Homo sapiens: one gene and its partners. The protein of the gene in region 3 interacts with the protein of the main gene of each other region in a pairwise test. Each region holds a gene or a part of one and is shown on either strand. Other genes may lie near its edges.

The links.
Region 1: the proteins of RFX2 (region 3) and FOXJ1 interact in binary tests that used the Homo sapiens proteins (3 or more experiments, as listed by UniProt).
Region 2: the proteins of RFX2 (region 3) and FOXN4 interact in binary tests that used the Homo sapiens proteins (3 or more experiments, as listed by UniProt).

What each region holds. Positions count from the first base shown.
Region 1 is NC_000017.11:76,136,915-76,147,504, forward strand, and holds the start of FOXJ1 (forkhead box protein J1), read right to left. Parts: upstream 4,332-10,590; 5' UTR 4,200-4,331; exon of another isoform or gene 3,651-4,199; 5' UTR 3,482-3,650; coding exon 2,984-3,481; intron 1,207-2,983; coding exon 439-1,206; 3' UTR 1-438. Other genes in the region: E3 ubiquitin ligase RNF157, read right to left, coding at 8,321-8,439. UniProt on the Homo sapiens protein: Transcription factor specifically required for the formation of motile cilia. Acts by activating transcription of genes that mediate assembly of motile cilia, such as CFAP157.
Region 2 is NC_000012.12:109,277,339-109,287,380, forward strand, and holds the end of FOXN4 (forkhead box protein N4), read right to left. Parts: intron 9,407-10,042; coding exon 9,310-9,406; intron 8,174-9,309; coding exon 7,966-8,173; intron 4,602-7,965; coding exon of another isoform or gene 4,561-4,601; exon of another isoform or gene 4,551-4,560; intron 4,462-4,550; coding exon 4,069-4,461; intron 2,593-4,068; coding exon 2,333-2,592; 3' UTR 640-2,332; downstream 1-639. UniProt on the Homo sapiens protein: Transcription factor essential for neural and some non-neural tissues development, such as retina and lung respectively. Binds to an 11-bp consensus sequence containing the invariant tetranucleotide 5'-ACGC-3'.
Region 3 is NC_000019.10:6,035,796-6,045,837, reverse strand, and holds part of RFX2 (DNA-binding protein RFX2), read left to right. Parts: intron 1-1,555; coding exon 1,556-1,645; intron 1,646-3,714; coding exon 3,715-3,794; intron 3,795-5,596; coding exon 5,597-5,858; intron 5,859-10,042. UniProt on the Homo sapiens protein: Transcription factor that acts as a key regulator of spermatogenesis. Acts by regulating expression of genes required for the haploid phase during spermiogenesis, such as genes required for cilium assembly and function.

The DNA of each region.
Region 1 (10,590 bases), on a different chromosome or scaffold from region 3:
TCTAATTAGCATTTGTTGTACCTGGGGACTCTCTCTGGATAGAGACCTGGGGAAGCAGGGGGGAAGCGGAGGTGCTCTGGGAGGGCCCAGTTCTGTTCCTCCCCAGCCTGACCCGGGCTCCTCCAGGCCTCGGCTCTCATGGTGCAGGGTCCTTTAGCCGGTTTCTGGGGCTGGGAAGACGCGGAGCAATGAAACACTGTGTGTACAAGGTGGGGCTGGGGAGAGGAGGCAGCGATTCTGGTCCTGGGCCCTCGTTTTCAGCCTCCTGGGCTTGAATCTGATGGCAGCTGGGGCTGGTGGCCATGTGGCCTCTGGGGCAAGCCTTGGAGCCCTGGCCCAGCCCCTGCCTAGGTGGTGGGGTGTCTGTGGACCTGTGTTGGGGGGCAGTTCTGGACCCTGACTTGGGCACTGTCCAGAGGTGGGGCAGGGCCTGGCCTCTTACAAGAAGGCCCCCACGCTGGCCCAGTCCTGCAGGTCGGAGGCCAGGGTGGCATCCCCAGCCTCAAAGAGGGGCTCCGGGGGCAGGCAGCCACTGCCGCTCTCGTCCCAGGGGTGCTGCAGGAAGGATGTGGCCAGGAAGGTCTCATCGAAGTCCAGGCTGTCGGCAGCCTGCTCCACCGAAGGCCCCCAGGTGGCAGGGCAGTCGATGTGGCGGCCGTGGATGGTGAGGTCCACGTCCACGTGTGAGGCGGGGCTCAGAGGCGGGCTCAGCTCCAGGGCCTCCAGTGCACCCAGCTCCCCGCCCAGAGTGCCGGCGTCGAAGATGGCCTCCCAGTCAAAGTTGCCTTTGAGGGGTTCCAGCTCACCCTGCTCCTCCGGGGTGGGCAGCAGGGTGCTGGGGGGCCGCGGGACCTTGGCCACCCGCTTGGGCAGCGGCTGTTTGCGCTTATGCCCCAGCCTGCCCTCGCCTGCACCCCAGCCCGCCTCCCCGGTGGCCTCCTCGAACTCCCGCAGCAGCTGCTGGGCCTCGGTATTCACCGTCAGCGGCCCGGCCCGGGGGACAGCGCTGGGCTCCTGCGCGGCCTGGCGGGCAAAGGCTGGGTGGATGTGGACAGGGGGCAGTCGCCGCTTCTTGAAAGCGCCGCTCAGTAGCCGCTCCGCGTACTGGGGGTCAATGCGCCAGAAGCCCCCCTTGCCTGGTTCGTCCTTCTCCCGAGGCACTTTGATGAAGCACTTGTTCAGAGACAGGTTGTGGCGGATTGAATTCTGGGTGCAGGGAGAGAGCAAGAGAGAGAGGAACCGCTAGGTCAGTGGGGACGGGGAGATGAAATGGCACCTGGCGCTGCTGCGCACCCCCCATCTTTTCTCTGGCAGGGGAGAGGAGGGGGGGACAGACACACTGGTCTGCCCAGGCGGCTGCAGCTCTGGGACACCAGCCACAGGGCACTGGGAGCCCGGAGTGCTGTCGGAGGCTTTTGTTCCCTGTTGCCGGGATATCTGCCTGCTCAGTCATCCGAGCTCTGAGCCGCAGGGTGGCTCTCGGTGCCACCCCCGTCGCCTGCCCTCCCTCCCTCACCCTGCCGCTGACAGCCTCTGGCCAAAGCCCTCGGCTCCCCCAGGGCCTGGACCACCGTCTCCCTTTGCCTGGGCCTGGCTGGCCCTCTCTGTGAGTGAGTGGGTCCAGGGAGGGGGCTGGGCAGCCGAGAGTGGAGAGGAAGGGGGAGAGAGAGAGAGAGCGCGCAGGGATGAGAGGTGGGGGATCTGATGACTTTCCTTGTTTGTTGAGCCGGCTGCTGGCCTGGGCCTTCACCCCCCACGGCCCCCTCCCCCCACTCCAGGCTCAGTTGATTATTACCCAGCCAAGAGCTAAGAGCATAGCACTCATTCCTGGGGCCCGTTTCTCGAAGCGCAGCTGCACAGGCTTAGGGTAGGGTGGGGCTGAGGGTCTCTGCTTTTTCGGTGCAGCTGCAAATGACCCTGCTCTAGGGTCAGGGGCATTGGAAATGGCTTGGGACTGCGGTCCTGTGGCCTGCCCGCTTTGGGTGCTTCAGGGAAGAGTCTGGGCGTCCTTGGGGGGCCCCTGACTCCAACTAGCCCTTGATGGTGATGGCTGAAGACTCTTAGGGCACTGCCTACCCAGCCTCAAATCCACCATCCTCCTGCCTTGTCCATTCTTAGGTGCTTAATCTTGTCCAAAGCCTGCTGGGGGACAGGGGTCCTGGGCTGGGACGGCAGGGCAGGTGGGTGGATAATGCCCGGCAGCAAGGCTGGGATGTTTACATGGTGGCCTGGGCCCCTTGGCTGCTCAGTGCCTGGTTCCAGAGACGTGGAACACGAAGTGAGTGTGGTAGGCAGAGCCCCAGTGGAAGGCACCTGGCTCAGGTAATTGTCCCCCCAGGGAGGTTGGCTGACAGCGGGGGTTGGAGGCAGGAAACTGAGCAGAGGTTGAGGTGGGGGGCTGGGACAGCAGCTTTAGGAAGGCCCCTTACCCCCTCCACCCTCCATTGGGACACACCTGGCCCTCACATGCTAAGGCACCCCTTCCATTCCACCCTCCCCAAGCCAACTGCAAAAGGGCAGGACGTAGAGCCTGGCAGGGAGGCCACGTTCCAGTTTCCGTTTCTGACTCCCGGCCCCGACAAACCATCCCGGGGCAGGGCAGTGTCTAGGAATTCTAGGACTTGGGACAAGAATGCGCCTTCAGTTCATCGCTCTCCCCAAGGAGATTCTGTCCACGCAGAGTCTAGCCCTGGTCTTTGGCCTGGGCCTGCTGGATGAATGGCAGGTTATTTCCCCTTGAATCTCAGCCTCTGCACCCCTAAAGCCCTCCACCTCTGGACATTCTCCCTTCTCTCTCTCTCTCTCTCTGGAAGTCAAAGGAGGGGCAGTTGCAAGAACTGGGCTCCTTTGCAGGGCTCCCTTCTGGGGCGCTGGCCGCACCGCAGAGCCTACTTGGCCTGCAGATTTGGGATATGAATCCAGTGCAGCGTGGGGAGCGAGGAGGGAATGGGGAGGGAGCGGCCGCCGCCCGTGCCTCCTCTACCTGCCAGGTGGGATCTGCGTGGCGGAAGTAGCAGAAGTTGTCCGTGATCCACTTGTAGATGGCCGACAGGGTGATCTTGGTGGCCTTGCTGGCCTGCATGGCCATGCAGATGAGCGTGGCATACGAGTAGGGAGGCTTCACGTGCGGATTGGTGGCGTAGTCCACGTCGTCGGGGGGTGGGGCCTGCAGCCCCGGGGGCGCGCTCCGCGACGTGCACGACGACGTGGGCTTGCCCGGCGTGTGTGGCTGCCCCAGGCAGGCGGGGTCGGCCGCCAGGGGGGACCCGGGCGCCGCTGAACCTGGCACCTGGTGGTAGCCGTGGGGGTCGGTGCCCCCCGGGGGCAGGGCGGGGGCCTTGGCGTTGAGAATGGAGAATTCCTGCAGCCACTGCAGGCTGGTCAGGCTGTCATCCAGGGCGTCGGGCTCCTCCAGGCCGCCCTCCGGCCCGGCCTCCTCCGCCGGCCCGGCTCCCGAGAGGCGCAGCCAGCTCTCCGCCATGTCTGCGGGGACTCTCCGAGGGGGCGGTCAGCATCCACGGGCTGAGCCGGGGGTGGCCCGCCGCGCTCTCTGGCCCGCTGAGTCCCGCAGCTCCCGTTACACGGCCTCCCGGACGCGCGCTTCCATCTCGCGACCCCGGGGGCGCCTCCTCCGAATAAGTATGTGGTGCCTGCGAGGACCACGGTGGGAGCTGAGCACTACCCCACCCCCGAGGGGACAGTGTGTGTACGGGGACGCCCTCTCTAACATCATCCCCGCAGCTGGGGAGGATCTTTTAGTGCCGAGGTATGGGAAACAGAAGCAAGGCCCTGGGGTCCCACCCCCATCAGATCTGCCTCCCTCTTCCTTTCCTCTTCGAGGTTTTATTAGCCAAATGAAGAGGGTAGGGGCATCCGAGGCTATCCTTTTCTCCCGAAGAGCAGGAAATCAGGACCCCCTTCCTCCTCGCAACAAATGGAAGTGGGGCGAGAAGTTTGGGAGGGCGGTACGACGGGGCGGGGGCGGTGGAGGTCCTCTGATCCTTGAAAAGGAATATTATGATAGGGGATCATTGGGAAGGAAGGGGACGGAACAGTAACGGGGGGCAGGAGGCGAGTTTCCCCCAGACTTCTCCGATGTCAGTCCCTGGGCCCACCACTTCCGTTAAGGACGAATGAGAGAGCGGGTTGGTACCGTTGCCCACCCTTCCCCCTGGCCTGCAGCCCTCCCCATCCCTTACCTGGCTCAGAGCGCAGCCCGGGCCAGAGGAAGGTTCTGGAAGAAGTTGCTCCCACCCCCTGCGGCTCTCTGCCCCCAGCTCGGGGGCCCTGCCAGCGCCTCTTGCCGCCCCCCCGCCCGACGGCGCTTCTCTGAGCTACCGCGGCCCCGGGACCGGCATTAAGTAGCCGCTCCAAAGGCTTCTCCTGCTGCCATGGCGACGCTCCGCCCCCATAAACAGCTTCCGCCTCTGCCATTGGCCAGCACGTCTCCAAGGAGACCGCGGGCACTTGCCACTCTCCCTGGCGGCAACTCTCTTCGAACTCCCTCCTTCTGCCGCCCTCTCCCGCGCCACCCAACCCCCTACCCGCCGCTAAGTCCCGGCTCGGCTCATTCCCGCCCGAGGGCCCCGCGCTGGGGTCGGAGAAGCGCGCGGCCTGCGGCACCGGGAACCGCTATGGATCCGTTCGTTCTGGGGAACCAAGACTCTCGCCCCCACCCCCTTCCTGTCCCGTACGCTTTGAGGCGTCGACTGCTCCTGGGACGGAGCCTGGGGTTGGGGGGCTAAGGCTGGGAGCGGGCTCAGGCTCGGGAACCGTATCCTTGAGGTTTTCTTTCCTCTCCGCTACGAGTGGCACTTTCTCATGTTTCTGCAGCCTTTCCCTCTCCCCCGACTCTTAGGGTCTTTCTCTGGTGTCCCAGGCAGGTCTGACTTTCCGATGCCACCTGCCGCTTACATCCACAGAGGCGGCAGACACACCAAGGGGGTAGGGTAATCCAGTGTGTCCCAGTAAGCAGCTCCTTCCCCACCCGTATCCTCGAGGTTCCAGGAAGCTGACATTCCAGAGGCTTCTGCAGAAGCGCACTCACTCCTCTGGAGACAGCTGATGAAGCAGAGCCCGTGGGTAAAACTCTGAAGTCATGGACTTGTCAAATTCTCCTAGCGGGGTCATTTGCCCAATTAATTTCACCAACCTTTAAGTCACAGGGATTAAGAGTAGAGGGACTCTGGGGACTGTGTCCCTTCCTCCTCCCTTCCCCTGGCCTCCCTCCTGTCACCAGCTTTCCTGCTCTTTAATTATTGAGGAGCTGCAGGGTTGGACGTTCTCCGGTTTAAGGCGGCTGCAGAGGCAGTGGTGGGGGCTGGGTTGATTACCCCGCCTCTGCCCAGGAGCTGGAGAGCCGGGGTCGGGGAGGCTGGTGCCCAGACCATGAAGAAGGCCCGGCTATGGCGCATCACTCCCCCGCCAACATGCCTTTCCCTAGCCCTTGCCTCTCCCACTCCTCCAACTCCAGATCCTCTTGAGTAAAAGTATTAAAGAGTGCTGGCGAAAGTCAGACAGAAACTTTCACAGATAAGCTCACTTTGCAGTTAGCTCTCCTTCCCTTGTAAACAGTTTTATTCATTTTTAAGAATCATGCAGCAATCCATAAATATTGCATTCTTGATGTCCCCACTGTAGTGTGACCACAAGTGTACTCCAGGGAGAGGGGTACACAGATGGCACAAGCAGTATACACATGCACACACCAGGTGTGCAGACCAAAGCAAAGTGAGCGACCAGCGTGCTAAACTCCAGGTGGGCAGGACCCCAACTCCCAGGTGAGGTGGGCAGGACCCTAACTCCCAGGCCAGCCGGCTTAGAGTGTGGTGGTCTGTGCCCAGGAGATGCCTCAGCGGGGGTAGAAACTCTGGTGGGATGGAGCTGGGCAGAAGGAAAAAAGGGCTCTGTGAGGAAGCCGGGATCACACCACCTGAAGGCAATAGGGAGAGCACAGGCCTAGTGCAGCAGGAAGGAGCCCTGGGTCTCCATAGTTAGGCTGTGCCCTGTGGGAGAAGCCAGGCCCCACCTCTTCTCTTTGGGTGAACTGTTGACGTGACTATGTGACTGTCTCCAGATGAAGGACTGGGGCAAAAGGGTTGGCCACTGACCTGTCCTCATCAGGCTGACTGAGGACCAGCTCCTTGGATGGAGTATTTCTGTGGGCCAGAGAGCTAAATGACAGCCAAGAGAAGGCAGGGGGAGGGAGGAAGAGGAGAAATAGTAACTGAGAAACAAGTAAAGGACATTTCTAACCTAGGTATGCCTTGGACATGGGACTGAGGCCTTGAGGAATCTTTCCGTGCTTCTCCCTAGGAGAGGACTAAGCACCTGCTGCGAGGAAGGACAGGGATCCTCAGGAAGGGGGTCCTGGCCACTGTGGCTACTGTTTACCTGAATCTCCTTCATCTCAGCTCCTTCCTCCCTCCTCCCAGGTAACACCACACTGTGAATACTACCTGCAGGGGACAGGACAGGAGGTGGTCTGTGTGCCACCACCCCAGGGTAAGGGAAGCTCCCTGTCACCTGCTGCTTCTGGGCTCATATTTCAGGGAAATCAGGAAGTGGGGTTATTGCTCAGCTTATGCATCTTAACTATGAAAGGGGCGGGAAGAATGTAGGGGGAAGGAAGGAAAGAACATTAGGTGGGGCCTGAAATGGTAAAGTCTACTGCAGTTTTTCAGAGAGGGTTGGACGACAGGCCCCCCTCTCCATCAGGGCAGGATGTGAGCCACAACCACTAGGCAGTGAGACAGTCACTGCACTCCTGGCCTCTGCAGCCACACAGAAACGAAGGACCCCCTGGGCACCAGGCTCTTTTTGAGGCTGCCTTGGAAACAGCCTTGAATTTTTTTTTTTTTGTTTGAGACAGAGTTTCGATCTTTTCAATCTTGTAGCCCAGGCTGGAGTGCAGTGGCACGATCTTGGCTCACCGCAACCTCCACCTCCTGAGTTCAAGCGATTCTCCTGCCTCAGCCTCCCGAGTAGCTGGGGAGGGCCCTTGAAGTGAAGGCCCTGAGCCCTGATTCCAACCTCTGCTCCCAGCACACTGCTGCTGGCCACATGCTGCTGCCTGAACTTAGCTCAAGGCTCTCCATCACTTCCTTTGGGGACCTGGGCACCAAACTGAGAATCACTGGTCCACATTTCTCTCAACCATTAACAAAAGGGGGTAGAGATGGGGGCAACAGGGACAAGAATGCCACCTCCCAATTGAGTGAGGATGAATTATGGTAATATACGACCACTCCTCACCCAGTGCTTGGCACACAGAGGTGGTCAACACATGTGTTTCTTGAAATGTCACCTTAGGATGGAGTTGCAGGCCTCCCTGAATGCACCTGATCAGGAGAAATGCTCCTTAAGGGAAATCATCTTAACTGGGGGATTCTCAGATTCAAGGGCTCCTTCTTTTTTTTTTTTTTTCTCTGTCGCCCAGGCTGGAGTGCATTGGCGCGATCTCGGCTCACTGCAAGCTCCGCCTCCCGGGTTCAGGCCATTCTCCTGCCTCAGCCTCCCAAGTAGCTGGGACTACAGGCGCCTGCAACCATGCCCAGCTAATTTTTTGTATTTTTAGTAGAGACGGGGTTTCGCCGTGTTAGCCAGGATGGTCTCGATCTCCTGATCTCATGATCCACCCGCCTCGGCCTCCCAAAGTGCTGGGATTACAGGCGTGAGCCACCGCGCCCGGCCAAGAGCTCCTTCTTAACCGCACAGGCATGTGAGGCCCAGAAGACTGGCTCTGCCACCAGAAGGAAGGATTGTTTCCTTCAACCAACCTTTTGGTTGCTACCATTTCTTGTCCTTGAGAAAGGTGCTCCTAGTGCTTGTAGAGGGAAACGCTACGTCCGTGCAGTATGGCTCTCCCTTTCCACAGGAGCGATCCTCCAGCCCTACCCCAAACTGCAGGTTTCCAATTGGTTATGATGTGCCAGAGACCAGGAAATGCCAGAGGGATGTTTGTAACAAAGCTGCCAAACTCTAAGCCTTCTTGTTCTACCCCCTAAGGAGAAAAAAGATGTGTAAGAAATTAGCCCATGGACCCCAGCTCCACCTGAACATCAATATACCGTGAGGACATTCCAGAGTCCCTGCAAAAGGTCTCGTGAGCTGCAGTTCATTGAGTGGCTTTAGGTCACACGGAGAAAGGAGGGTTCCAGTTCCCTCTGAGAGGTGAGGGATTGTGGTTACAGGTTGTAACAGCTGTCACAGGAGGGTAAAAAGTCTCCAGCATCTTGCTGAGGATGCCCAGTAGGCAGCAGCTGAGTGAGGATGGATGGAATGCAGGGCAGGAGGGGAGCCCAAGTGCAGAGGCTGGGGCTCAGACAGCCAAAGGGCCCCACACACAGGGCCTCGTCTCAGAGTCCTCCAGGCTGCTGGATGACAAGCGCCGGCGCTGGGCATTCCGACTGACGGCATTGTCATCAGCCTGCCAGGCACCTGGGGAAGAGAAAATGAACATTACAGGAGCCAGACCTTTGGCCAAATCCAGATGGTGTCTCCAGCAGGGCAGCCCAGGAGCCGGCACGGAAGGAGCAGGATGCGTGTCACCTGAGACTCCGATGACGGTGCGAGCCACAGCACTCGTGTGTGAGAACGGAGAGAAGCAGGTGCTGACAGGTGCAGAGCCTGCTCCTGCCCCCTGGGCTAGGTACAGTCACTGCCACTGTGGCTCCCGGACAGGGAGGGACATGAAAGATGTTCCTTGTTTTGCGAACTTACCCTGGGATCCACTTTTGTATTTTAATTACTTGGTTTTAAAGTTTGCCTATATGTTACAATAGACAGGAAAAGGAAATTGGGCCTTGCTGAGCTATTTTCATTGGGGCAGGAAGAGGTGGGGGGAAGTGAGAAGACTGTTCGTTCTGGCCGAGTGTTAATGTTTTCTGTGGGGGCCCAGGCGGGGCAGGAAAGGACTGGCCACCCAGCAGGGTTCCTGGGATGGAAGGCTGCCTGGAGGGAGGACAGTGTGAGGCTCCAGTCCCCGTCACCTGCCGTTTTCCTCTCCTCCTGCACCTACGCAGCTGTTGAGGTTTGCTACTAGCTGGTGCCATCAGCCCAGCAGACACCAGCCCAAGAGCCTCGGGGTCCCACAGATACCATCACTAAACGCATCCGCTCCCCAAATCTGCTGCTGCCCCCACATGAGGAGTGCCAGCGCCTGTCTGGAAACCCATTCTTGGTGCTTCTCTTTCCCTTGTGCTGTGGATCCAATCCTCCACAGCCTCCTGTGGGCTCACTTCCTGGCCGTGTTGTGACTCCATCTGTAGTCACGCTAACCTGGGCTCCACTCCCAGTTTACAGCAGTGTGACCTTGGGCACATCAGTTTACTGTGGGCCTTGGTTTTCTCACCCATCAGATGGGACATGCGTACTGACCTCACGGGCTTGCTGTGAGGACTAGATGAGAGAATGCGAGCGTTGGTGAGTATCTGACTCCTAGAATAGCCTGTGCTCAGGCTCCTCCAGGCCATCTCGCCTCTCCCCTGGGAGTCCTCTTCATCTCCTGCCCACAGATGAGCTCCTCCCTCCAGTGCCCTCCCTCCAGTGAGGCTAGGGCGCTCCTGCCTTGGGCCTCGGCTGCCTCCACTCTCAGGGTCCCCTGGCTCCCTGGGGTAGGGAAGGCATGTCGTCCTCCGGACCCTGTGGGCCTCCCCAGCCGTGTCTCCCAGTGGCCTCCCCTCACGAGGCATCTCTGGCCGGGGGAGGCCCAGTGTGCTCCTAAGTGCTCCCTGCAGCCTGAACTACTGCTCCACGCACACGTCACATGGCAGAAACCGCTAGGTCCTGGAGCTCCTCCATGGGACAAAGCTCCTCCTGGGCAGGGGCCGTGACTTCTTCACTGTTGCAGTCCAGAGCCCAGCACAACACCTGACCCATAGGAGGACCTGTTCAGCGGACAAGGCCGACCAACTGTAGAGTGTGGCCGTGAGGTTGAGAGAGGCCACTCACAAGTGTCCAGGGTCAGCCTCAGGCCAGCCCAGGACATGAAACCCTTTAATGGCATGTAGAGTCAACAGGTATAAATGGCTTATTTCCATCAATGCCTTGGTGTGCTAATCCACCTCAGGCTCTAGTAACAGTCTCTGGTGCTTGACCCCAGGGGAACAGTGAGAACAGGAGAGTCTTGGATCTCTCTCTCATATCCAAACTGAATTTGGGATCTTTACTCCCTGGGGGTGGGTACTGGAGCCTGGGACATGAGTCAAGGTGTTTTTTTTCACCTCTAATGGTGGCACTATGTGTCTAAGTGTGGCAGGATAAATATAAGGCAATATTAATATTGCCTTTAAAGTGAAGAACCCAAAATAAAATGAGCTGTTTGTTCATTTATATAATTTGGTAGATCTCATACCTATTCCTCAATGTTTATGGGGCAGGACTCCGGAGCTGCGGCTGTTCAGTAGGAAAGACCAAAAGCAAATGGTAAACAAGAGAGAAGACACACATGCATGCACAAATAAAAACAGCAGCACCACCACCACCACCGCCGCCGCCACCACCAGCAAGCCATGGAATGCTGGGCCGGAGAGGCTGCCCAGAGAGCTGTCCTGACTCTGAATTCACAGAAGTCCTTGCTACAAACTCCAA
Region 2 (10,042 bases), on a different chromosome or scaffold from region 3:
CCTGGCAACAGAGCGAGACTCCATCTCAAAAAATAAAAAAAAGTTAGACTCCTAATTAACACATCCTTTGCCTGTTATATCTTGGACAGCAAGTCACCTGCTTTATTCCCCTGAGCCTCAGTTTCTTCATCTGTGAAATGGGTGTAGTAACAAATCAGACATGCTTCCTAGGGCTGTTATGAGGACCAAATGAGCTAATTTACAGCAGTGACTAGTGCAGGGCCTGGCATATAGCAGGTGCTGGAAGGGGTGTGTCTCTTTCCATCTTGTCTTTTCTGACATGAGGTACACACCTGAGCTGTGCCACTGAGCTCCAGGACACACACTCAGCCAACCCTACCTCTCCAAGCCTCTGCTCTGAGTGGTAAATGGCGTTCACGATCCCTGCCTGAAATGATGCCTGTCAAGCAGCAGGTCTCAGGGACAGTAAATGGAGGCGGTGCTCATTGTAACCTTCATGAAAAACTTCCCCCAGCTTCTGGTGCGATGGGAACTTGGTGTCAGAATGCCTGGTTCTGAGTGGTGTCACCTCTCTGGGCCTCAATTTCCCCATCTATAAATGGGATCTCACCTGTAAGGGGTGAGTGAGTGATGTCATTATCCTTTATCTCCCTTTGACCTTCTCACGAGCCACAGAGCTGCCATTCAGCCTTTATTGATAGAAGACAGTTGCTCAATTCTACACTTACAGTCTTGATGTTGCCCAAACACGGAGTCTTTGTGAATAACAGTTTCAACATCTTATCAGGGGTCATGTTACACAAAGCAGATGAGCAGTGCAGGTCAGACGGGTAGCACTGGGATTGTGTCTAAGGGTGGTGGATACTCGGTAGAAAGTTCCAGAACTGGGAAAAACTTAAAGCTCGCCCTTCAAGGCGGGGCTTAATGCCAAAACTCCCAGGCAGCTGGCTGAGCTGTTGATTAAACAGAACATCCTGGCTCTAGGGTTCGGGAACTCCCAGACACCAAGTCAACATCCATCTGGTGGAAAGAGGGGGATGGTGCGTGAGGCTGCAGCTTCTCCAATTTTGTCTCAGCTTTGCTGGGAGAGCATTTTTCACATTTGACTAGCTCACTCCCCTGTCTCTCTTCTAACCCAGCTATCTGCGGAACTTGCCACTTGGGGAGTCAGTAATTAGCAAGGAGAGAAAAAGAAGCATAAAAACAGCTGCAGGGCAAAGGGAGGTGAGGAAGTGCCAATAAATATCATGCGTTGAAGTTTTGTCCACCACTTGCCACGTGGTTCGAGCTTTACGTGGTTCAGTTGGCTTTCATTCCATCAGGGGTGTCTTAAATCCCAGTACAAAAGCACCCCCCTCCAGTTCCTCCCTCTCCCATCGCATTTTCCCCTTTGAAAGCCCCCCAAGCCCCCAAACAATGGCACCGCCCCTCTTAGGTACATGCAAGAAGAGATGTGAATCATGAACAGGTAGAAAAATATCTGGTCTCTAATACGGAAAAAATGGGATGTTTCACAGTATCAACAGTGCTTGCTGGTTCTAAAAAGTAGCCCCAGGCTGCCAAGGGATTATGAGCCAGTTAGAGATGTCATTCTCTGGCCTGTAGGAGTTAGGATGGCTGGGAGGTAGGGAGGGAGAAGGAGTCCCATTCCAGAGGCCTCGGGATGGGTTTGCAGAAGTGGGGTGGATGGGCCACAATAAATATAAATAAATTTACACAAGGTCACGGTACCCGGCATGGCCCAGGAATCTGCGCTAATAAAATTCTAACAGACTATCGGAAAGGTGGGGCTGAAGGCCACCTGGACCGGCTCCCATTTCAGAGTTCAGCTTGTCCTGTCCAAGAGAGAGGCTCAAGCTTCTCCGGCTCCATTTCCCGCCCTGGGCCTGTCCCCCGGAGGCTGCGGCTGAGGTTTGATCCACTCAGCCATTTCCCATGAGGATGAATTCAAGGGCTTTCACCCCAGGGTGTTTCCTTAATGCACCAAGGTGTCCCAAAATGGGGTGCAGGTCACTGAGGTCACGCAGCCAGGATCCAGGATGGAGAAGTCTCACTCAACACGGGCAGGCATTGCGGCTCAGGCCTCGGAGGAGTGTCAAGGGGTCGGGGGATGCTGGGTTGCTTGTCCACCTTCCTCCATTCTTCTGACTTGGAAGAGCCCCCAGAAACTGCTCCGGAAGCTCCAGGGGGAGGCACGAGAAGGAGAGGGGCTGCTGAGGGGAACCGCTTCCCTGTCCAGCCGGCAACTTCGCCACAGGTCCAGGAGAGGCTTCGGGGACAATGAGGGACCTGCCTTCTGGGAACACCCTGTTCTAGTCAGTTCTCTGCCCAAGCCGGGTGCCGGGGTTCCAGGGCAGGTGAGGCTGACAGCTCAAAGCAGGGCTATAGGCTTGTTCCCCTGTGCACCCAGGTACTGGGAGGAGGAGCTGGTGCCCGATGCAGCCACACTGTCCGGAGTGGAGTACGCTGTGTAGAGACCCGTCACCTGCAAGTCTGGGAAGGACTGGTCGCTGCCACCCGAGGCAGGGGTTAGGCCTGAGGCCCCCAGGTCACAGCCAAGCGGGGAGTCTGCAAAGGCGCCCAGTGTGTCCAAGCTGAATCCCTCATCCTTCATCTCCTCCCACAGGTTCCCTTTCAAAGACAAAAGCATTAGGGTGAGCTGGCTTCCCATCAAATGACCTGAGTTCGAATCCCCCATCTTAGGGAAGAGGCAGAGACCATGTGTGGTGTCTAAGTCATGTGTTGTAGAAAAAGGGCATGGGGCCGGGCCTGGTGGCTCAAGCCTGTAATCCCAGCACTTTGGGAGGCCGAGGTGGGTGGATCACTTGAGGCCAGGAGTTCAACGCCAGCCTGGCCAACATGGCAAAACCCCATCTCTACTAAAAATACAAAAATTAGCCTGGGCTGGTAGCGCACACCTGTAATCCCAGCTACTTGGGAGGCTGAGGCACAAGAATCACTTGAACCCAGGAGTTGGAGGCTGCAGTGAGCAGAGATTGTGCCACTGCGCTACAGCCTGGGTGACAGAGTGAGACTCCACCTCAAAAAAAAAAAAAAAAAAAAAAAAGCATGGAAGGGCCAGAGTCGCAGCAGCCCCGGGCCCTCACCTTCCCACTGAATGTCCTTGGGAAAGTCACTTCCATCTCAGAACCTCAGAATAAGATGGAAATGATCAGTGAACCCAGCTCCTAAGGCTGTGGCACGGGTTAAACAAGAGGACTTGTGAAAAGCATTTAGTTCTCATGGTATCATTATGGTCAAAGCCAGGGGGACAAGACAATGTTTCTCTTTCTTCAGCACGTTGAACTACACAACAATCCAGGGGGAAAGAGGCAGGGAGGTGCAAATATACCCACTTCACAGCTGCAGCTGACTTGCCACTTGTCCATTTCCCTCGCTAGAGACAGAACTCAGGGCAGAGGCTGTCTCCACCCTTGGCTGGAACATAAGAGCTGCACCTGTGCTAGTGAATGGATGAAGTCTGAGCCTTCACTGAAACCTGAAATTCCCTTGTTCGTTCATTCATCACGTCCCATTTATTGGAGATGATCATGCGGCAAGGCAGCAGGTCAGAGTGTGACCTGGCATGGGGCTGGCACATGTGAGTTGAAGCAGTTACTGATGAAAACTTTGGGGTCAGACCGAGGTTTAACTCCGGACTCTGCCACTTACTAGCCAGGTGACCTTGGGTGAGTGACTTCACTTCTCTCTGCCTCAGTTTCCTCATTGGCAGAACAGGGATGTGGAATGGTGGTGACCTCAGGTGATGCCTATGGAATGCTTTGGCCCGGTATACAGCAAATGCTCATTCCCTGTTGGCTGCCATTGGCTATAACAGGTTGAACATCCCTAATCCAACCAAACATCTGAAATCTGAACTGCTCCAACGAGCATGACATTTGAGTGTCTTGTCGGAGCTCAAAAATTTTTGGATTTTGGAGCATTTTGGATTTCCGGATTAGGGATGTTCAACTTGTAAAGGTTGTTGCTATGGGAACAAGACTGTGGGGCAAATGCAGGCAGTACAGTCCTCTCCCTCACTCCCTTTGGCCCCCGGGCCTCTCCCCTCCCCATTCCATTCCCATCACTCCATTCCTCCAGCCTCACCCTGCAGAGCGAAGTCCATGATGCTCGGGTCGAGGGCATCCACCTCAGTGTTCATGTCGGTGCTGATGTTGATGAAGTCTACAGGAGCCCTTCCCATGGCGGGGTGGGGGAGCGGGCTGGGGCTGAGGTCCGGCAGGGCGTGCAGTGGCGGGGTCTGGGCTGGTGCTGGAGAGTCTGGAGCAAGATGTGCCTGGGGCTGGACCTGGTGGTGCAGGGGGACTGACTGCAGGGACAGGGTCATCAGTGGCTGGGGTGGGAGCTGGGAGACAGCCAGGCAGCCATGCGCCACGGCCACTGTGGTGGCGTGAGTCAGCACGGGGGCCTCTGGTTCCCCCGGTTTGCCGGGGCGCCGGCAGCTTTCAGGCCGGTCGGAGATCAGCTTGTCCAACTCCTCTGCAGGCAAGTGGGAGAGGTCACTCAGAACCCACCCAGCAGTTACCGGGCCCCAGCCCAGGCCTGGGTTCAAATTCCAGTGTCACCACCTGTGTGACCTTAGCAAGCCTCTTGGACACTCAGAACCTCTGTCTCCTCACCTATGAAATGACACAGGCATCATCTCATCTCACAACTTACATTGCCACCCATTGTAAATGAAGGTGTCTATTAAATACTTCTCTGCGTCCTAGCCCATGCTGGGTGTCAATATTTTATTATTTTAAACATCTCTGCCCATCTAGCAAAACATCATACCCTCTGCACACGGTTGTTGTGGAAATGTAACAAAATCACAGACTGTGCAGAATCTTTGAGGAATAAGAGACGACATCAAAGGCTGGGCTCATGCAATCCCAGTGCTTTGGGAGGCTGAAGCAGGAGGACAGCTTGAGGCCAAGAGTTCAAGATTAGCCTGAACAACATAGTGAGCTACCATCTCTACAAAAAATAAAAAATATGAGCTGGGCTTGGTGGTGTGTGCCTGTAGTACCAGCTACTTGGGAGGCTGAGGTGGGGGGATCACTTGAGCCCAGGAGGTTGAGGCTGCAGTAAGACATGATTGCACTACTGTACTCCAGCCTGGGTGATAGAGCAAGACCCTGCCTTTAAAAAAAAAATGTCATCAGATAATAACACTAGCCCCTTTCATCTTTCATCGGGACAGTGCCTTACAGGACAGCCCTGTAACCCTAGGGCTTCACTTAAATCTCATAACAGCCCTGCAAGAAGGAGGTAAGGCCGCGATTACAAATCCCATAAGACTGGGACAAAATGTATTAACATGCAAGGGGCCCTAGCCACTCCCTGCTACTAAAGAGACATTAAGAAGTGTTGCTGTGGGTTAAAAATCCTTAACACTCTTGGATATAAACAAGTAAAGACAAATTACTCTCATATTATTTTTGATTAATGGCTATGTCTTGTTGAGTGCAACACAGGGTTGATAGTAGACTGGTAGGGTCCCCAGATCTATTTGGGTTGTACCCATTTGAGAAATGAGAGCACTTAGAATGTAGAAGGCAAAATAACTTGCCCAAGACTTCACTCCGAATATGTGTCAGTACTGGCCCTGGGTCTCAAGCCAGACCCCAGAGCTCTCGGTGGGGTGGGCGCGATGTCATACCCCCTCAACTGAGGGACCATTGGCTCCTGCTATAGCCCTTCTCCCTGCCTTGAGTTGTTCATCCCCAAGCCACACTGCTAGCCCCATTCCTACACCGCATGGTGATACCCAACAGACTCTGGCCATACTCCGAAGGCTGGGGCACAATTAGCCTCCACGTCACAGTCCCCATGCATATGTCCCTTGGATGGCCCCTCCTCAAATCCATTAATTTTTTTTTTAAAAGCAGATGCAATCCTTTTTCTAATTAGGAACAGGATAGAAGTTTTGGAAAATACAGAAATATGTGAAAAATATAAAAGTTATCAATGGTCTCTCCATTCACAGTAAAGATTTTGGTGTATTTCTTCCCAAACACACAAGCATATTTATTCTCATTCTCTCACTCGCTCTCTCTCAGATACATACATTTTTGGGAGGGAAGTGAATATGGATATATATGTATTTTAAAATATGATCTTGCTGTGGATATTGATTATAACCTGCCCCTTTTCACTTATTGTTTGAGAACTTTTTTTTTTTTTTTTTTGAGATGGAGTCTTGCTCTGTCACCCAGGCTGGAGTACAGTGGCTTGATCTCGGGTCACTGCAACCTCCGCCTCCTGGGTTCAAGTGATTCTCCTGCCTCAGCCTCCTAAGTAGCTGGGATTACAGGCACCTGCCACCATGCCTGGCTAATTTTTGTATTTTTAGTAGAGATGGGGTTTCACCATGTTGGCCAGGCTGGTCTTGAACTCCTGACCTCAGGTGATCCACCCGCCTTGGCCTCCCAAAGTGCTGGGATTATGGGCATGAGCCACCGCACCCGGCCTAACATTTATTTATGTTCCAAAAATATTTTAAAATATTTCTCATTTCTAATACTTGCATGGTATGCCATTCTATTTATTTAACCAACCCCTATTGTGAGATGTCTGGACTGCTTTCTGTGTTTCACTCTTAGAAATAATTTTGTGATGGATAACTTTGTTCACAAACCTTCTGCTCAAATCTTTGCTCTTCACAGTACACATCATCAGAAGTAGAATAATTGGACCAATCCATGGGTACCATTTGCAGGTGTTTGATATATTAGCTTTCCCTCAAAAAGTTTAACAGCTTAAATTCCTATCCATTATATACGAAGCTCTCTATTGTTCCACATCCTAGCCCACACTGAGTGTTACTATTTTAAACATCTCTGACAATGTGGTAGGAAAGCAATGTGTAACCCATGGTTGTGTAGTTTGGCATTTCTGGGCAAGAAACTATGGATGACAAGTGAGATCCAACAGCTTTTCCTGTTTTTGATCAGGCCCCTCTACTACTCCTGCCACTGGATAGGGTTGGGGAGGGGGAGGCCTATTTCATAGGAGGGAGGGAGGTTTGCCAGACGCCTGTCTTCCCATCATCCTGGCTGAGAAGTGTTGGAGACTGGGTAGGGCATAGGCAGAGCTGGGGCTGGGCTGGGAGGAGGGGCGCGTGGTGTGTGTGTGCATGCATATGTGTGCGTGCATGTGTGCGTGTGCGCACACACTAGGGGCTGCCCGGGCCTCTTGGCCATGCTCTGGTGGATGGTGGCCAGGTCCTTCCTCTTCCACTTGTGTGTGCGCACGTGTGTGTGCGTGCGTGTGTGTGTGCGCGCTGTGGGCTGTCCGGGCCTCACCAGAGTTGGCCATGCTCTAGTAGATGGTGGCTAGGTCCTTCCTCTTCCACGTGTGTGTGCGCACATGTGTGTGTGTGCATCCAGGCCTCACCGGGGTTGGCTACGCTCCGGTGGATGGCGGCCAGGTCCTTCCTCTTCTGTGTGTGTGTGTTTGTGCATTTGTGTGCATTTGTGTGTGTGCGCACATGCTGTGGGCTATCTGGGCCTCACTGGGGTTGGCCATGCTCCAGTGGATGCCAGCCAGGTCCTTCCTCTTCTGCGTGTGTGTGTGCACGCATGTGTGTATTGGTCTGTGTGTGCATTTGTGTGTGTGTGCGTGCTGCAAGCTGTCTGGGCCTCACCGGGATTGGCCATGCTCCAGTGGATGGCAGCCAGGTCCTTCCTCTTCTGCGTGTGTGCGTGCATTTGTGTGCACAGGTGTGTGAGTGCATTTGTGTGTGTGCGCGCATGTGTGCATCTGGGCCTCACTGGGGTTGCCCATGCTCCGGTGGATGGCAGCCAGGTCCTTCCTCTTCTGTGTGCGTGTGCGTGTATTTGTGTGTGTGCGCATATTTGTGTGTGTGCGCGTGCGTATGCATCGGCTTCACCAGGGTTGGCCATGCTCTGGTGGATGTCGGCCAGGTCCTTCCTCTTCCGTGTGTGTGTGTGTGTGTGTGTGTGTGTGTGCGCGCACTGCGGGCTGTCCGGCCCTCACCAGGGTTGGCCATACTCCGGTGGATGGCAGCCAGGTCCTTCCTCTTCCACTTGTGCATCTCCTCCTCCATCTTGTCGATGCGGGCCAGGTTCAGAGCCCACAGGCAGCCCTTGCGGGAGGAGCCGCTCATCTTGTTCTCCACCTTCTCGAAGCACTTGTTCAGAGACAGGTTGTGCCGCACCGAGTTCTTCCACCCGTCGGGGGCCGTCTATGAAGACACATGGGCATTCAGAGGCCTCCCTGTAAGCCCTTCCCCCTACCCCGGGGATCTCCTACTCAGGCCTATAGGGGCAGGACACCGCGGTGGCAGGAGTAATTTGACAGTGCCTGACACTCAGCCTCAAGTTGGAGAGACAAGAGAGAGTGCTGGGGACTGAGGCCAACTGGTGTGGCCATGCCCTGATGAGAGGGGAACTACAGTTCAGCTCTGGCCAACTGTTACTATAGGAGGATGCAGCCTGGCCTGCTGGATCTTCCATATTCTCTCTCCCATTCAGGAAGCAAGCAAGGAAGAATGATGCCAATAAATGGATAACTGATCGAGTGTATTCAATGCAAATTTACTTTTTTTTTTTTTTTTGTGACAGGGTCTTGTTCCATCACCCAGGCTGGAGTACAGTGGTATGATCACGGCTCACTGCAACCTCAACCTCCTGGGATCAAACAGTCTTCCCACCTCAGCCCCCCAAGTAGCTGGGACTACAGTCGTGCACCACCAGCAAATTATTTTTAAATGCTAGATAACCAGATATCACAATGCATCTCACACCACATGTGTACATGTGTGCACACACACTGTACTGCAGTATTTTTGCTAAGGACACTGTCCAATCCAGGGACCCCACAGCTTGGTGTACCCTCTAACTTCCTGCTCCACTTTTTGCTTTGATGCTAACAAGGATAACACTACTAGTGGCCAACCCTATGCTGGAAGCTGCCAGGCCCTTTATCTGCAGGATCCTCACTGACCCTGCCAGCTTGGGATGATTCTCCACCCCTGACAGATGAGGATACTGAGGCTCAGAGGTGAAGGCTTTTGCCAATTCTGTTGTTTTGCATCATTATGTTGTACTGAATCTGTGCTGAGTACCTAGTCTGGTGCCTCTACCCTTTTCTCCTTGGGATGCCTAATGAACTCCTCTTCATCTGTCAGAGCCCAGTTCAAATGCCCCCCTCTCTTTCTGACTTTCTTCTGTGTGAGTGTGTGTGCACATGTCCTAACCACCAGATGTACAGACATAACTGGGAACCAAAGAGGGTTGGCCCAGGGCCAGCCCTGGATTCTGGCAGCACCAGGAAGAGACCAGGGCAGCTCCAGCACCCCTACCCTAGCTTGGGACTCACCTTGAAGTAGGGGAAGTGCTCCTTCATGAAGCTGTAGATCTCGCTCACAGGCAGGCTGCCTGTCTTGCTGTTCTTCAGGGCCATGGCGATCAGACAGCTGGGGGCAGGAGGTGGGGCAGGGCAGGGCAGGGCAGGACAGGGCAGGCCAGGCATGAAAGGGTCTCAGGCTGACAGCCCAATGCCGCCTCTGCCAGGAAGCCTGCCCTGCTTGACCCTAAACACTCACACACAGTGAGCTCTCAATATCTTTTCATGGCCCGATGTCTTTCCCACCCTTTGCCCTTTCTCCTTGATCTGGGCACAACAATTGGTACTGACTTGAGAAATCTTACCCTTTCCCCTCTTTATTGCATCCCCATAATTTTAATGGCTATGAGCCTTCAGACTTTACCTAGGTTGTTTCCCCCTCCCCAAACTCCCACGAGGTATACAATACTATTATTTTGATGACTTTTTACATTTGGGGAAATCGAGGCTCAGAGAGGTCATCCCACTTCCCCAAGGCCACGTGGCTTATGAATGAAGTGAACTGTGGCACTGGACTCAGGTCTGCAGTGGGCTCTTGACCTGGGGGACCCTATGATGCGCCTTCCTGAGAACAAGTCCCACCTGGGGGTTCCCCACTCCCCAAAACCTCCCCCTTGGAAGTCTGGGCTGCCACACTAGCTGTCTGAGATGCCCTGAGGGCAGCCTCATCCCTCTCTCCCGGAGCCGCCCTTGGCCCTGACCCGGC
Region 3 (10,042 bases):
TAGCCGAGCATTGTGGCACATGCTTGTAATCCCAGCTACTCGGGAAGCTGAGGCAGGAGAATCGCTTGAACCCAGGAGGCAGAGGTTATAGTGAGCCGAGATCGTGCCATCGCACTTCAGCCTGGGCGACAAGAGCAAAAATCCGTCCCAAAAAACACAAAAAAACAAAAACAAAAAAACACAATTCCGCAAAAACAAAAAGGCAGACAGTGAAGCGGTTTATTTGATGTAGTGTGTATGGTCAGACATCTTTAGCTTTTATTTCTTGCACATATGGCAGTGGGGAGGGCGTCTTGGAAGCCCATCTGAGGTGAGGATCAGACGCCGTCGCCCTGCCAGCAGTTGTGGCCTAATTGATATGTTTCCGTGCCCACTTGAAATTGTCCAAGAGGAGTCAGCCCTCAGGTCTTCCTGCCAAGCCCCTCTCTCAGGCTCTCCCAGGCCTAGGTGGACTCTGCCTTCCTCTGCAGCAGCCACCATGGACAGGTCTCAGTGCCACTCACGGCCACCATGTGTGTCCCAGGTTTCATCACTGTGGTCCCTCTCTGAGGACTTGCCAGGACCCTGTGAATTCTCCAAGCACACGGCGCCCAGCTCACCTGGAATCAGAATGCCCTTGCGCTGGCATCCTTATTAGCACCATCTTCATCCTTAGCTCCACTCCTGCAACACAGGGGATGGCGTGTCCTCACCCATCACCCCTCGTGATGTATATATGGCAGTCACTGCTACCTGTGACATTCAGGGTTCATGCCGGGAAATCACAGCACTGCAGCCAATGACTCCGAAAGCCCCAGCTCTCAATAAACACACAAAACACTCCTGTTCCTCCCTCGACTCGAGTTCACTTTGACCCTTCCCATTTTGATAGCTTTGTGTGGCCAATCGGTACTCCCAGAAAAATAGCAAAGCCACACTGTGCAGATTTGACTTAGGAGGCTGGAGAGCAGTGGGGTCAGAGAGCGAGGGACCCAGACACAGGGCACCTGGACTCGAGTATTCTGTAGCCAGAGGCAGCACTTGAGCCCTCTGGCTTCATTAACCTCATCAGAAAATGGAAACAAGTCCGGGTTATACTGCAGAAGCGAGGGGCGCCACAGAGTGCTCTCCCACGCAGTGGTGCGGATGGCTATCCAGAGGGCCCCAGCAGTCCCCTCTGTACTAGGGACGATCAGTGTCACCTTGCTGCAGACTACAGACCCACAGAGGCAAAGCTGCCTGGGCGGGTGAAGGTGCATGTGCTTCCGTGTATGTGTGTGTGCATACGTGTGTGTGTGCCCACAATTCGTGCATATGTGTGGTGCATGGGCTGAGTGTATGTGCACACTTGTGTATGTATGTGCATTGTTTGTGTGCCTGCACGTACCTGCCGTGTGTCTGCCCAGGTCGGTGTGAGTGTGCAAGTCTGACCATCACCCCGCCGTCGCCTCTGATCAGTCCTGCCTATGTTTTAATAAAAAGCACATGAACAGACAAACAGCATCTTACATTCTGTGTGTATCCTCAGCACTGACCTCTGACAAGTCTAACTGGCCTTCTCTCCCTTCCCTTTTAGAGGGTGTTGGTCCAGGCAGCCAGCTCCAATCCCAAAGGGGCCCAGATGCAGCCGATCTCCCTCCCCAGAGTTCAGCAGGTACCCCAGCAGGTAATGACAAGCACCGCAGCACCGTGCAAACCGGGGCGCAGTTAGCACTCAGCAATCCAGAACAATCTCTGAAGGATGCATCCTTTTCTGTGGCTGCTGTTCCTTGTTGTAAGCTTCAGTTTCTTAGCCAAAAGACTTTTCCAGAAGCTGTGCAATTTTAAAAAAATCATTTACTGCAGATAGTTTTGCAGAAAGCCAAGAAAGCTGGTGATCTTTCGTTCATTCAGAAATTCAGCAAGCATTTGGGGAACCAGTGAGCACCCCGCACCTGCTGGGTGGAGCTCAGGTAGAAATGCAGACAGAAACAAAGGGCTCTGGACTGGAGGAACCATCTGCTAGTGAGTGCCATACCCTCAGATGCGGGCACAACAGAGGAAATGCTTCTTATGATTTCAATTATCTAAGAACAAAGTTTGAAAGCACGGCTGACCAGCCAAGTAGCAACACAGATCATCAGCTTGGGGACACTCTAGAAGCATGGTTAGCAAACTGTTTCCAGAAAAGGCCAAATTATACATTTTTGGGGGTTTGTGGTCCAGGCAGTCTCTGGAACAACCACTCAATTCTGCCATTGTATCGCAAAAGCAGCCATAAATGATATGCAACCAAATGGGTGTGGCTGTGTGCCAATAAAACTTTATTTACAAAAACAGGCAGTGGGCCAGATTTGGCCCTCAGGGCCGGAGTTTGCCAACTGTGCCCTGCAGAATCCTGAATTAAAGTTAACTCAGGCTCCTCCCTAAAAGGAGCCCTGAGGCCCTAGAGAATGCACCGCTCTTCAGGAGGGTCCTGCCTAGATTGGCAGTCTGTTCACAGGCATTTGTCAGGTGACTGTGTCCATGAGAACTAGGAAGGTTTGCAGGATCACAGGAAGGAAAAGGCTCCAGACAGGCCCAGCGGGGACGCAGGGCCTCAGGCCAGTGGCTCTGTCTTAGCTGCTGTCTGTCAAGGCACTCCCCAGAGACACCAAGGAGAGGAGATTCCAGAAGCTTCCACCACTTTTCTGGTGCTGGGCCTGCCCCAGCTCTTTCTGTAACTTCTGCATTTCACTTGGACCCCAGAATTCGACATTTGACTTCCACCCCTGGGGCATCACCCAACAGATGTTAACCCCTGGAACTTGTGATTCTGGGGGTGGTGCGTTGGACAAGTGCATACCATGCTCAGTGGTCCAAGGAGGGGCAGGTCAGCCCCATCCTGCAGCTTCAAGCACAAGAGGAAGGTCACCATGACACCATGACACCCGAACAAGCCCACTTCTGTGGCCCTCCATCTTCTCACCCCAAAATTCAGTGGATGTAGACAGCCACTAAGATGCCCTCTGGGGTGAGAGTTTGAAGTCCCATGTGCAAAGCGTTTGGCTTCCACTGCTCGGACTAGAGTCCCTCGGGGCCTGTCAGCCGAGGCTCTGAACTGATGTTTCAGAGAGGGGAGGGCAGGGCAGCGGGGGTGTGCTGGGGTCCCCCCATTGCCCCATCTCTCCAGGCATGCCGCTCCTTCCCACTCTGTTCAGACCATCACATTCTCTCCCCTCCTCTCTGCCAGGGAAGGGGCACCAGGGCCACCCACGGGGGGTGTTGGGGCCATGTAGAGTCTAATCTGCTCAGCCCCCTGTGCACTGCAGCCTGCACGCCAGCTTGAGCTACAGAGGGAGACCCTGTCGCAAAAAAACAAACAAACAAACAAAAAAAAAAAACAGAAACCAGGGACAGTCCTGTGAGCCAAGGCTGGGCCTCTGTCCACAACTCTAGTTTCCACTGCACTGGAGGAGCGTTGTCATTCTCCTGGTCCCGCCCCCACGTATACAGAGGAGCCAGGGCGCACAGACACGCTAGCAGAGCTCTGGGGATCAGTCGCAGCTCCCTGAACTGTGTGGGCCCGTTTGGAATATGTCGTCTGTACATTACTGTCTCCTCAGTGTCTTTCTAGGCGTGCCGACTGTGGGCGGGAACATTGTCATTTGGTACTAAATGTTCATAAAGGCAATAGAAGACACGTCTAGCTTGAATAATCTGCAGGCAACTCACGAGGGCGTGACTGGCGGTAACGCAGCGTATCCGATGTTTCAGGTGCAGCCGGTGCAGCACGTGTATCCTGCCCAGGTGCAGTACGTGGAAGGGGGAGACGCCGTCTACACCAATGGAGCCATGTGCGTGCTTCTCCCGCGGGCCACACCCGGAACCCTCTCCCTGACTCCAGCCTTTGCCACCTGGGGAGGCATCAAGCAAATTCCTCTCCCTTATGCTTTTGGCGATGTGTTCACTAAATACTGTTAAAATGCTATTAGGAAACTGGGCAATATCTCTACAAAAAATTTTAAAATTAGCCAGACATGGTGACAAGTGCCTAGAGTCCCTCCCAGGTAATCAGGAGGCCAAGGTGGGAGGATCGCATGAGCCCAGGAGTTGGAGGCTGCAGTGAGCTATGATCACGCCTGACTGATGGAGCAACACCCTGTCCAAAAAAAAAAGGAGCGGGGTGGGAGCTGAGGGATTAGGACATCATAACCCTGTGGAGATTTCAGAAATCACAGACTTTTGTACTTTTTACTTTTAGAAAAGATAGTCTTGGAAAAAAAAAAAAAAAGGCTAATCCTAACTCTTCATTCTGAAGTCTCAGTCTTTGAGATCCAGAAACCATCCACCCCTGTGTGTTTTCCCCTCGCCTCTGTTAAACTCCAGCTTTGTATAATGTTGATAGAACTTGATTTTCCATGTTGCAAGGATGTCTAGAGTTTTCTGCTCTGTAACTGTGTGATGCTTGGGGTAGGAAAGTATGCATCTCCCGTGCAGCTCACTTTACTTTAGACGTGAGTCCTTTCGCCTGCTTGTCTGTTTCCATTTGGCCTGGATGGCTCCCCTCACAAGTGCAGGGGCTGTACATGAGAACCTGGCTGTGACTTCAGGGTTGTGATTGGTGGAGTTGTATGATTCTAACCCCAGCCACTGTGGCGGTGCACACCCATCACCCCAGCTACTGTGGCGGTGCACACCCATATTCAGAGGCTGAAGCAGGAGGATCACTTGAGCTCAGGAGGCTGAGGCTGCAGTGAGCTATGATTTTGCCACTGCACTCAAGTCTGGGCTACAGAAGGAGACCCTGTCTCAAAAAAACAAAACAAAAAAACCCCTGGAAATTGACATTGGGGTAAAACTGTTAACTAGCCCACAGGCCTTATTCAGTTCTACCAGTCTGTATGCACGTGCTTTTGCGTGTGTGCTTGCATGTGGAGTACATGTGGCTTTGCATGTTCATGTGTGTACCCTTGCATGTGCGTGCGTGTCTATTTCTTTGCATTTTTAGCCCATGTGTAGATTTGTGTAACAATACCACCATCAAGATACAGAACTGCTCCATCTCCACACAGGAGCTCCCTCATGTGACCCATTTATCCACTTACAATTTTAAGTTTTATTTGTATTTATTTTTTTTAAGAGATAGGGTCTTGCTCTGTTGCCCAGGCTAAAGTGCAATGGTGCAGTCACAGCTCACTGTAACCTCAAAGTCCTGGGCTCAAGCAGTCCTCCCACCTCAGCCTCCTGAGTAGCTGGGACTACCGGCACGCACCACCACACCTGGCTAAATCTTTTATTTTTTGTAGAGATGGTTCTCTCTATGTTGCCCAGGCTGGTCTCAAACTTCTGACCTCAAGCAATTTTCCCACCTTAGCCTCCCAAAGTGCTGGGATTACAGGCGTGAGCCACCACGCCTGGCCTAGAATTTTTAAGTGGTCACTTTTTGATAAGTCAGCCTGTGGTCCTAAAGATTTTGCAACATGGTGGCTGTGAACTTGCGCTGCATTTGAGTGTCATATGCCACGTCCGAATTGCTCCATATGTCTGGCCTCTCTGGGTTGCAGCTTTTACGTGATGTTTGGCTGGATATCTGTGAACTCAGACAAGGCATTTAAATGGGACAGCGTCCCATGCGTGACTTCTCTCTTTCTAACAGACGAACAGCCTACACCTACAACCCCGAGCCTCAGATGTACGCCCCCAGCAGCACGGCTTCTTACTTCGAGGCCCCAGGCGGTGCCCAGGTGACCGTGGCAGCCTCGTCCCCGCCAGCGGTCCCCTCCCACAGCATGGTGGGCATCACCATGGATGTCGGGGGGAGCCCCATCGTCTCCAGCGCGGGAGCCTATCTCATCCACGGGGGGATGGACAGCACCAGACACTCCCTGGCCCACACCTCCCGCTCATCGCCCGCCACGGTATGTAGGAGGCTCTTGGGACCAGCAGGGTAGGCCATGAGTATTCTCGAAGCAGCGGCAGCAGGGATGGTGAGTAAGAGGCAGCCGGAGGCCCGGAGGGGCTGTCGTCTGCTCTGGGCCCAGGCGGCCCCACGATGGAGTCGGGCCAGCCTCAGACGGGCCACGCAACCATAGGCAGGCCTGCAGAGTTCTTTGAACTTCAGTTGGCCATTGGTATAAAGAGGAGGACAAGCCATGCGTCATGGGCTGTTGTGAAAAGGGAATGAGTCAAGCATCTCTCCACTGGTGGATGCTGCAGCCTCCTTTGCTCTTATTATTGTTATCGTTGTTACTATCAAGCTTTTAGAGGCGTGGATCAATCCATCCATGAGACACCTGGACTGAATCAAGCAGGGGAAGTTTCCCTGCAGCCTCTGCCGAGTTCTCGCTGCCATGCCCCGATGCAAAATAACGACTTATCTGCTTTTCCAGAGTCTCTACATTTAAAACTCGATTACCCGTGTTTACTTTTCATTTATTTTCCTTCTTAAATTAACACAAAGTAAAATCAACTTTTTGGTGTACAGCCTTGTGAGTTTTGACATGGGTAGATTTGTGTATAATCAGGTCACAGAACAGTGCATTGCCCTGAAAACCCCCTCGTGGTATTTCTTGGCAGTCACAACCTCCCCCATCCCCAGCCCTTGGCAACTGCTGATCTGTTCCCTATTGCTGTAGTTTCATCTTTACTAGCGTGGTGTATAAATGGAATCGTACAGATTGTGACCTTTTCAGACAGGCTTCTTTTACTCATTCTGGTGCCTTTGAGATTCAGTCAAGTTGCTGCATGAATCCGAGTTGCTTTTTTTTGTTACTGAGTAATATTCTATTACACTACAGTTTGTTTATTCATTCACTAGTTGAGGGCCATTTGGATGGTTTCCAGTTTGGGGTGATTATGAATAAAGAAGCTCTAAGTTTCACATGCAGGCTTTTGTAAGGACATATGTTTTCTTTCTTTTGGATATATACCTACAAGTGGAATTGCTGCTGGCTCATACAGAAAGTGTATGTTTAACTTTATCAGAAACCACCAGTTTCCCAAGTGGTTGCACCATTTTGCATTCCCACCAGCAACATACAAGAGTTCCTCTTGCTCCTCTCCGTCAGCAGCATTTGATGCTGCTGGTGCTCTTGGTTTTGGCCATTCTAATAGATGTGTGGTGGTACCTCATTGTGGTTGCAACTTGCATTTTCTTTATAGCTAATGATGGTAGCAGCTTTTCATGTGAGTGTAGATGCTCTGGTCAGGTGTCACTTCAAGTCATTTGCTTCTTTTTTAACTAGGTTGGTTGTTTTCTTATGGTTGAGTTTTGAGAATTCTTTATGTATTCTGGATACAAGTCTCCTGTCAGATATGTGACTTGCAAATATTTTCCCCAGTCTTTAGTGTGTCTTTTCATTCTCTAAAAAGTGTCCTTTGCAGAGAAAAAAAAAATTTTAATTTTGATGAAATCCAACTTATCAATTTTTCTTCTGTGGCTCATGCTTTCAATGTCATGTCTAAGAACTCTTTGCCTATTTGCACATTATGAAGATTTTCTCCTGTTTTCTTTGAAAAGTTTTATAGTTTTACTTTTGTTTTGGGTTTTTTTTTTTTTTTTTTTTTTTTCTGAGACGGAGTCTTGCTCTGTGACTCAGGCTGGAGTGCAGTGGCACCATCTTGGCTCACTGCAACCTCCACCTCCCGGGTTCAAGCGATTCTCCTGCCTCAGCCTCCCGAGTAGCTGGAATTACAGGTGTGTACCACCACACCCGGCTAGTTTTTGTGTTTTCAGTACAGACAGGGTTTTACCATGTTGGCCAGGCTGGTCTCGAATGCCTGACCTCAAGTGATCTGCTCACCTCGGCCTCCCAAAGTGCTGGGATTACAGGCGTGAGCCACCGCGCCTGACCATAGTTTTACATTTTACATTTAGATCTGCTTCCTATCAAGTTAACATTTGTATAATGTAAGGTTTAAGTTGAGGTTCATTTTTTTTTGCTTATGAAACAATGTGTTGTTCTAGCCTCATTTGTTAAAAAGACTACCCTTTCTCCATTGGATTGCTTTAACACCTTTGTCAAAAATCAGTTGGCCATATGTGTGTGGGTTTATTTCAGAGTGTCCTATTCCATCCCATTGGTCTGTCTGCCTATCCCTTTACAAGTAGCATAGTCTTAATTACTATAGCTTTATAGTAAGTCTAAAATTGAAGAGGATGGTTCCTCCCACTTTATTCTTCAGTATTGCGTTGACTATTTATATAAACTCAAAGTTTCTGTATAAGTTTAGATCAATTTATCTATATCTACAAAGAAATGCTACTGAGATTTTGACTAATTTGCACTGAACCAACTTGGGGAGAATTCCCATCTTTACTATGTTAAGGCTTCCAATCCATGAACATGGTACGTTTTCTCCATTTGTTTAGATCTTCTTTCATCAGCATTTTGTAACTTATACAAAATTCTGTACATGTTTTGTTAGATTTATATCAAAGTATTTCATGTTTGGAGAGCTATTGTAAATGGCATTGTGGGTTTTCTTGGCATTGATCTTTAAATTTCTGTTTCCAACTGTTCATTTCTAGGATTTAAAAAATGGTTGATTTTTGGCTCTTTATCTTGTATCCTGTAATCTTGCTGAACTCACTTTTTTTTTTTTTTTTCTTTTTGAGACAGAGTCTCTCTCTGTCGCCCAGGCTGGAGTGCAGTGGCGCAATCTGGGCTCACTGCAAGCTCCGCCTCCCAGGTTCACATCATTCTCCTGCCTCAGCCTCCCGAGTAGCTGGGACTACAGGTGTCTGCCACCACTCCCGGCTAATTTTTTGTATTTTTAGTAGAGACGGAGTTTCACCATGTTAACCAGGATGGTCTCCATCTCCTGACCTCGTGATCTGCCTGCCTCGGCCTCCCAAAGTGCTGGGATTACAGGTGTGAGCCACCCTTCCCAGCCTGAACTCATTTTTTGGTTCTAGGAGCTTCTTGTTGCCTGCAAATATAACTGCTTTATTTCTTTCTTTCCAATATGGACAAAAAGAAATTTCATTTCTTTTTCTTGCCTTTTTGCACTGGCTAGCACTTGCAGTGAAATGTTGAACAGGGGTGGCAAGAATGGACATCCTTGCCTTTTTCCCAGTCTTAAGGGAAAAGCCGTCAGTCTGTCACTGCTAAGTATGTGATGTTAGCTGTGGGTTTTTCACAGATGCCCTTTTTCAGGTTGAGGAAGTTCCCTTCTTTTTCTAGTTTTCTGGAAGTCTCTATGATAAATAGATGTTGAATTCTGTCAAACGTTTTTTTACATATGTAAGCATCAGCATATTTTTGTCTTCATTGGGGTGTTAATATAATGAATTGCATTGATTGACTTTCAATTACACAATAACTTCTTATTTTGGTGTAAGGCTCATCTCCTGAGATAGAAGGTGGTGGTTTAGCCTTGTCTCTGTGTTTTTGTTTGTTTGTTTTTGGTTCTGGTGTGTTCTGGGGTCACCCTGGCATCAGAGAGGCCCCATGAATCTTGCTGTCCTCTCTCTTCCTTTGTCCAGAGTGACCCCCAGGCCCTGGCTTTGAGGACAGGCGTAGTGCCCCATGCCTCCTCCCTCTCTTCTCGGGAGGAGTCACTTGCTTTCTAGAGGCTGTGAAATTGTAGGGTAGTGTCTGCTGCTTCTACCCCTAGCCACTTAGTGCCTCGGTGCCATTAGCACCCCAGGCCAGGCAGCCCCAGCAGACCAGACATACTTCTCCCGCCTGGGATTGGCTGGGTGGAACTAGGTTTAGTTGTTATGGAACAGAAAGCTTTCCTCGCAGACTACAGTAATTGTCACGAATGTGGCACATTTGACTTAGCAAACGGCATCAACTTATAACAGTAAAATAGACTAGGATTGCAAGTCACAAATTTACTGAGAAACAATCATGTTCTCTGTGGATTCAGAATTACCTCATTGCAGCAAACATACTGCTCAGACCCTGGGCCACCACCCTGGAGCTGTGGTTTGTTATGTGGGTTGCTCTGGAAGAACTAAATTATTAAATCAATTAGAAATCCGTGAATAGGCTATGTTTTCACACACACACACACACACACACACACACACACACACACCCCCCACCAAGCTCTGGGGGAGTCATCATCTTGGATACGAATCTGATTCCTGGCT